Linked DNA regions of Homo sapiens. The protein of the gene in region 2 purifies or fractionates together with the protein of the main gene of each other region. This does not show direct contact. Each region holds a gene or a part of one and is shown on either strand. Other genes may lie near its edges.

The links. The genes of interacting proteins can lie anywhere in the genome.
Region 1: the proteins of SERF1A (region 2) and SMC2 purify together in Homo sapiens (affinity purification with mass spectrometry, with the first as the bait; one large-scale study listed by BioGRID). This does not show direct contact.

What each region holds. Positions count from the first base shown.
Region 1 is NC_000009.12:104,096,911-104,100,808, reverse strand, and holds part of SMC2 (structural maintenance of chromosomes protein 2), read right to left. Parts: intron 2,364-3,898; coding exon 2,241-2,363; intron 1,166-2,240; coding exon 1,127-1,165; intron 717-1,126; coding exon 606-716; intron 421-605; coding exon 376-420; intron 1-375. UniProt on the Homo sapiens protein: Central component of the condensin complex, a complex required for conversion of interphase chromatin into mitotic-like condense chromosomes.
Region 2 is NC_000005.10:70,903,198-70,906,618, reverse strand, and holds part of SERF1A (small EDRK-rich factor 1), read right to left. Parts: intron 1-3,421. UniProt on the Homo sapiens protein: Positive regulator of amyloid protein aggregation and proteotoxicity. Induces conformational changes in amyloid proteins, such as APP, HTT, and SNCA, driving them into compact formations preceding the formation of aggregates.

The DNA.
Region 1 (3,898 bases), on a different chromosome or scaffold from region 2:
TAGTGATAGCCCCTGTTATCCTGGAAATTGTTCTCAATGAGGGTGTCTAAGAGTGCCTTATCTTTAAGAAATGTTGTTCCAGTCAATGCTAACTAACTAGGAAAATCCAGACTTGCTTAGCTTAAATAAAGTATTAAAATTCGGCATACCATTTTCTGAAACTATAAAAATTACTCTCCAATATCCTATGACTTAGCAGATAAGTGCATATCCTCTGTAAGCAGAACGCTGAGTTATGGAGTGCCAACTCTAATTCCTTATCTCATCGCAGGAAAAAAACCCCCAAGAAATAGTATCACTATGTGTATGATTTTGGATACATTGCTGACTTTGAAAGACATTCTAATAGATTATCCTCACATATACAGAATATACCTCTTTTAATTTTTGAATGGTTGGAGTAATCTCTTCTTCAAGTATCTGGAAAATAAAGAAAAATCAGTATTTTCGCATGTAAAGTATCATTAAAATTTATTTGAAAGAGAAGTAGCAGGGATGACTATGGAAAACTGAACCAAGGAAAAAAATTTTTCCCTCTTTACAGCAAAAACTCTACATGCAAAATTACATTCTTCTCCGAAAATATTTTATATGAATTAAATTACCGTCTTAATTTCTTTCAGCTTAGCCTCCTTTTTTTCTATAGTTTTCTGTGCAGCTATTTTTTTGTATTCATACATCCTGGTTCCAGCTGCTTCTTCTATCATGGATAAAATCTGGAATGACAATTTTATTAATGTTTAGTATCCAAGACAATGTGTCCAACTGGAATTTACATTAAATATATCATTTTTGCCTTGACCTCACTAAACATCTTACCAAAAGTTGGCCCAAATGAACCATATAGGTTAAATATAGTAATTTCACACAAACCTTTTCCTGTAGGCTTTTTCTGTAGGAATGAATTCTGACATGAAACACCAGCTAAGCAAGACTCCTTTATACAATCAAAATCAATTTTAATATTTGGGCATAGTGCCAAATATTACACAAATATACAACTGTCTTTACTAATCATTCCCAAATAATGTCTCCAAAAATTTTAATAGAATATTTAAAAATTGTCTGAAAGATTAAAGTAATATCTATACCAACTATTTTTAATGTCCATAAATAGTACTCTTACCTCTGGAGGTTTCATATTCAATACTTTTGTAATTCGGCCCTGAAAATAAAATAGCAAACTTACTAAGATAACAAATTACAGAAAATGTTTATCTGTACTGCCATTCATGTTTATCTAGACTGAAGCTGTTGTATCTCAATATACCAATCTTTGGGGGGGTCTTTCCTCTATAATTCTTCTATGATTCTAGAATTTTGGAACTTTGCTATTCACTTTCTCACCAGTGATACAAATTATGGAAGTTATGAAATGATACAAATGAAATAATTCATTAAATGATACAAAGTTAACAAGGATCATGTTTCTGAGACAGTTAACATTAAGTAGAAATATTCAAATTTAAAACAGGTAAATATAAAAAGAAATTTCAGCATAATTAAAAAACTTTTAACATTTCTTTGAATGATAACCCTCCAGGATAATTTCACAAAACAGATGACATACTTCTAGGCCTCAAACAAAATACAATATTTTACATCAATGCCAGAAAACCATTAAATTTATTCATTACCAAAAACAAATAAAGCAAAACACCTGCACACCCAGGTCTCAGAGAATTGTATTACTAGAATGTAGATTCATTTAAAGTAAAGTTTCAACTATGAAGGTGTGTAGTGGAAATATTTTTATTTTGGTCCCACTGAGATGCTCCCATCGACTTTACTATAATTCTCTCAAACGGCAGCTGGATGGGTCAAATGAAGTAATGTAAATGTAAGATAAAATCAGCCTTTACTCCTCATTTGTGTGAGTCTCTAAGAAAATTACTCAAGCTTTTATACTTGAAATATTAAGATGCATTAATCCAATAATTTAAAAGGATATATTATGGCTTTTTTTTTTTTACAGTTAACATGTATTGTTCTTTTAGTGACAAAACAAAAAGTCAACAAAAATTACTTCTAAACATTCTAGAGGAGTCAAAGGTCTATAATCCAGTAGAATATATCAGTGCAAGTAACTAAACCATATTTCTAAACAGATGGCCGGACACAGCACAATAGTAAATAAAAAGTATAAAATCCAAAACATAAAGTACTTCTATTTTAATTGCTTAAAAGTAAAAAATGTCGAAACTATTACGAAAGTGATATAAAGACCTCAAACGAAATACCTGCATGATGAGAAAGTGAGGGTTGTTAACATTAAGGCCAACAGAACAGAAGAGATCCTGTACTCTGGTGTTGTTGGCATTGACTCCATTGATTAAATATTTATTTCTACCACCAATAACCACCTATAAAAGAAAGCAATTTTTTAAATATTAATGTACATGCACACCTTGTGCTAGGATAAACTAAGTATATTAGCTTACGTTTATTTGTTCTGTCTGACTAGCAGTAAACAAAACCAATTCTGCATAAATAGTGGAACAAGTATGACATGGTCAAAAACGCTAACTTGAGTCAGGACAGCTAGTATCTAATGCAAGTACTTTTGGTAACTAGTTATGTAATTACACACAAGCCTCTTACCCTGGCCTGCACCAGACTAGGTCTCCGAGGTAACTTCTAGCTTTATGTTTCCAAGTATATGTAAAACACACTTTCCTAGTTACTTTCTTTCTGTAATTTTTCTAGAGGCTTTCTCTACTTTTCAACAGGAATAGATGTCAGACAAAGTAGCTTAGTATCAATTCTTGACAAGATTCAAAAAGCTATTAATAAAGACATGATTTATGACCATTTAAAAGAAAGGGTAATCATGGAGCTTCAGTATGGTTTCATTAAGTCATCCCAGACACCATACTCTACTATCACACTTAAATTGTCATTTATTGGGTATGATTGTCTCATCTACCAGATTGAAGTCCTTAAAGACAAGCTCTGTTTCTCATTCTTCTAACTGTACATCCCAGTACATTCAAGAACACCCAATATACATCAACTATTTAATAAATATTGAATAAATGTTAGTTCATTTCTTTTCCTGACAGGACTACTAGGTTGGTAGTTCATATATTAATGTATTTGAAGACCCTTCTCTGACAAAAATTTTATAATTTTGGTGAAGATACAAGTTTATGGCCTGAATGAGGACAGGAACAATTAGGTAGATTATTAGTAAGAGACTTAGTGACAGTTCCTAAAGGATAAATATTTGATGGATGCCTAATGACATGGAACAGGATTCTGTCCTAACGTGGCCTACGCTTCTTTTTTTTTTTTTTTTTTCAACCAGAGGCTTCCATTAAAATAGAGGAGAAAATCTGTAAGTGATAAATGATAAGATGGACAGTAAATAGGAGTTGACAACATTTTTAAAAACAAAATCTTGGGCCAGGCGCCGTGGCTCACACCTGTAATCCTAGCACTTTGGGAGGCCAAGGCGGGCAGATCATGAGGTCAGGAGATTGAGACCACCCTGGCCAACATAGCGAAATCCCGTCTCTACTAAAAATACAAAAAACAAAAAAAAATTAGCCGGGTGTGGTGGTGGGCACCTGTAGTCCCAGCTACTCAGGAGGCTGAGGCAGAAGAATCTCTTGAACCCGGGAGATGGAGACCAGCCTGGGTAACAGAGCGAGACTCCGTCTCAGGAAAAAAAAAAAAAAAAAAAAAAACCTTGACAAGCTGAAAACACTGCCTGACTATATTAATAACACACCTAAAAAAAAATTGAGTGGTTTCAAGTAAATCTAATATGAATCCACAATGTATTATGAACACCCCAATGCTCTACTGGGAAAAATAAAAGTAGAATATCTAAAATGAAAGAATAACTCCAACTAGACCAATTTTGGTACACCCAATCTAAGGTGCCATTAAAAGA
Region 2 (3,421 bases):
CAGTGGCACAATCTTTGCTCACTGCAACCTCCACCTCCCTGGTTCAAGCGAGTCTCCTGCCTCAGTTTCCCAAGTAGCTGGGATTACAGGCATGTGCAACCAAGCCCACCTAATTTTTGTATTTTTAGTAGAGACAGGGTTTCACCATGTTGGCCAGGCTTGTCTCGAACTCCTGGCCTCAAGTTGATCCGCTCGCCTCGGCCTCCCAAAGTGCTGGATTTACAAGTGTAAGCCACTGAGCCTGGCCTGTTTTAACTTTTTGAGGAAATGCTAAACTGATTTCCACAGCCATGATGGTAAGATATTTCTGTAAAGCCAATAGCAAAAACAAGGGAATAGAAGAAAGGCAAAATAGGCCAGTGGCTCACATCTGTAACCCCAGCACTTTGGGAGGCTGAGATAGGCGGACCACCTGAGGTCGAGAGTTTGAGACCAGACTGAGCAACATGGAGAAACCCTATCTCTACTAAAAATACAAAATTAGCCAGGCATGGTGGTGCATGCCTGTAATCCCAGCTACTTGGGAGGCTGAGGCAGGAGAATCACTTGCACCCGAGAGGTGGAGGTTGCGGTGAGCTGAGATTGCGCCATTGTACTCCGCCTGGGCAACAAGAGCGAAACTCCGTCTCAAAAACATAAAATAAAATAAAATAAAAATAAAGAAGAAAGGCAAAATAACACAGCTACAGGCTGTTCTGCCTATAAAGTAGCCAATATTTATTTCTTTACTTTCCTAATAAACTTGCTTTCACTAAAACAAAAACAAAAACATAGCTATAAAGAAATGAAGTACAGTGGAAAAAGAACCATGACAGTTACTTCTCTATTTGAAACCAAGCTCTGTTGTGCTTGCTGTGTAACTTTAGTAATGTTACTGAAGTTCAGAGCCTCAGTTTCCTATTCTACAGATTAGTGCTAATACCATTTTTCAGAGTTATGATGAATAAAGAATAATGTATATAGAATGTCTAGCATAGAATTTTATAAGGAGTGCATATCTGGTAAACAATGACAATTTCTGAACCAAGCTAGACTAGGTTCTCCAATAAAAATACTATTGCAGGGTCACTGATTCATACCATGTTCATTTTTACTCTAATGTGAGTCAACAGAAATTGAAGACAAAGCTTATCACTTTAATAATAAATGTTAGGGCCGGGCATAGTGGCTCACACCTGTAATTCCAGCACTTTGGGGGACTGAGGTGGGCAAATCACTTGACCCCAGAAGTTCAAGACCTGCCTGGACAACATGATGAAACCCCGTTTCTACAAAAAATATAAAAACTATCTGGGCTTGGTGGTGTGCCCTTGTAGTCCCAGCTACTCAGAAGGCTGAGGTGGGAGGGTCACTTGAGCCTGGGAGGCAGAGCTTGCAGTGAACCGAGACTGTGGCACTGCACTCCAGTCTGGGTCACAGAGTAAGACGCCATATCTGGGAAAAAAAAAAAAAAAGGTGTCAGGACCTTTGCCGTAAATTAAGGTCTTTAATCTCATTTATCAATGACTCTTAATAGTGGCTGCACATTAGAATCACCTGGGAGCTGTTTTAAGTTCAGTTTAAGGTATAACTGGGTGTGCTGGGAGGCTGGGGGAGGGATAGCATCAGGAGAAATACCTAATGTAAATGATGAGTTGATGGGTGCAGCAAACCAACATGGCACATGTATATCTATGTAACAAACCTGCACGTTGTGCATATATACCCTAGAACTTAAAGCGTAATAATAAAAAAAAAATTCAAAAAAAAAAAAAAAAGGTATAACTGGGCCAGCGTGGTGGCTCACGCCTGTAATCCCAGCACTTTGGGAGGCCGAGGCGGGTGGATCACTTGAGGTCAGTAGTTTGAGACCAGCCTGGCCAACACGGTGAAACCCAGTCTCTACTAAAAATACAAAAATTAGCTGGGCATGGTGGCGGGCGCCTGCAATTCCAGCTACTTGGATTGCTGACGCAGGAGAATCGCTTAAGCCCAGGAGGTGGAGGTTGCAGTGAGCCGAGATCACGCCACTGCACTCCAGCATGGGCAACAGAGTAAGACTCTGCCTTTAAAAAAAAAAAAAGGCATAACCTAAGTACAGTAAAATTTACCTAGGGTGCTTTTTAATGCTCGACCTCTGACCAATTAAATCAGAACTGGATGAAAGTTAAATGTTTGAGCATAGAGATATCCCAATTACCCCGATTTGATCATTACACATTGTACACATAAAGGTTTTTTTTTTTTGACGGAGCCTCGCTCTGTCGCCCAGGCTGGAGTGCGGTGGCGCGATCTCAGCTCACTGCAAGCTCCGCCTCCCGGGTTCACGCCAGTCTCCTGCCTCAGCCTCCCGAGTAGCTGGGACTACAGGCGCCCGCCACTGCGCCCGACTAATTTTTTGTATTTTTAGTACGGACAGGGATTCACCGTGGTCTCGATCTCCTGACCTCGTGATCTTCCTGCCTTGGCCTCCCAAAGTGCTGGGATTACAGGCATGAGCCATCGCGCCCGGCCGGAGTTTCACTCTTGTTGTCCAGGCTGGAGTGCAATGGCGAGATCTCAGCTCACCGCAACCTCCGCCTCCCAGGTTCAAGTGATTCTCCTGTCTCAGCCTGCCGAGTAGCTAGGATTACAGGTGTTCGCCACCACAGTTGGCTTTTTTTTTTTTTGAGACGGAGTCTCGCTCTGTCACCCAGGCTGGAGGGCAGTGGCACGATCTCGGCTCGCTGCAAGCTCCGCCTCCCGGGTTCACGCCATTCTCCTGCCTCAGCCTCCCAAATAGCTGGGACTACAGGCGCCTGCCACCTCGCCCGGCTAAGTTTTGTATTATTAGTAGAGACGGGGTTTCACCGTGTTAACCAGGATGGTCTCGATCTCCTGACCTCGTGATCCGCCCGCCTGGGCCTCCCAAAGTGCTGGGGTTACAGGCGTGAACCACCGCGCCCGGCCACACACTTGGCTAATTTTGTATTTTTAGTAGAGATGGGGTTTCTCCATGTTGGTCAGAATGGTCTTGAGCTCCCAACCTCAGGTAATCCACCCGCTTCGGCCTCCCAAAGTGCTGGGCTAACAGGTATGAGCCACCACGCCAAGCCAGTTTCTTTTTGTTGTTGTTTTTTTGAGACAGGGTCTCACTCTGTCACCCAGGCTGGAATGCAATGGCAGGATCTCGGCTCACTGCAACCTCCGCCTCCCAGGTTCAAGTGATTCTCCTGCCTTAGCCTCCCAAGTGGCTGGGACTACCCAGCCCACATACAGGTATTAAAAGATCACATGTACCCCCAAAATATGTACAACTATTGTAATTCAATTTTTTAAAAAAACAAAAAATCAAAACTGAGCATAACGCAAGGCTTGAGTAGCTGTCAAGGTTTCCCAGGTGATTCTAATGTGCAGCCAGGATTGAGAACCCCTAACAAGCCACACTGAAGCACATGCAGTC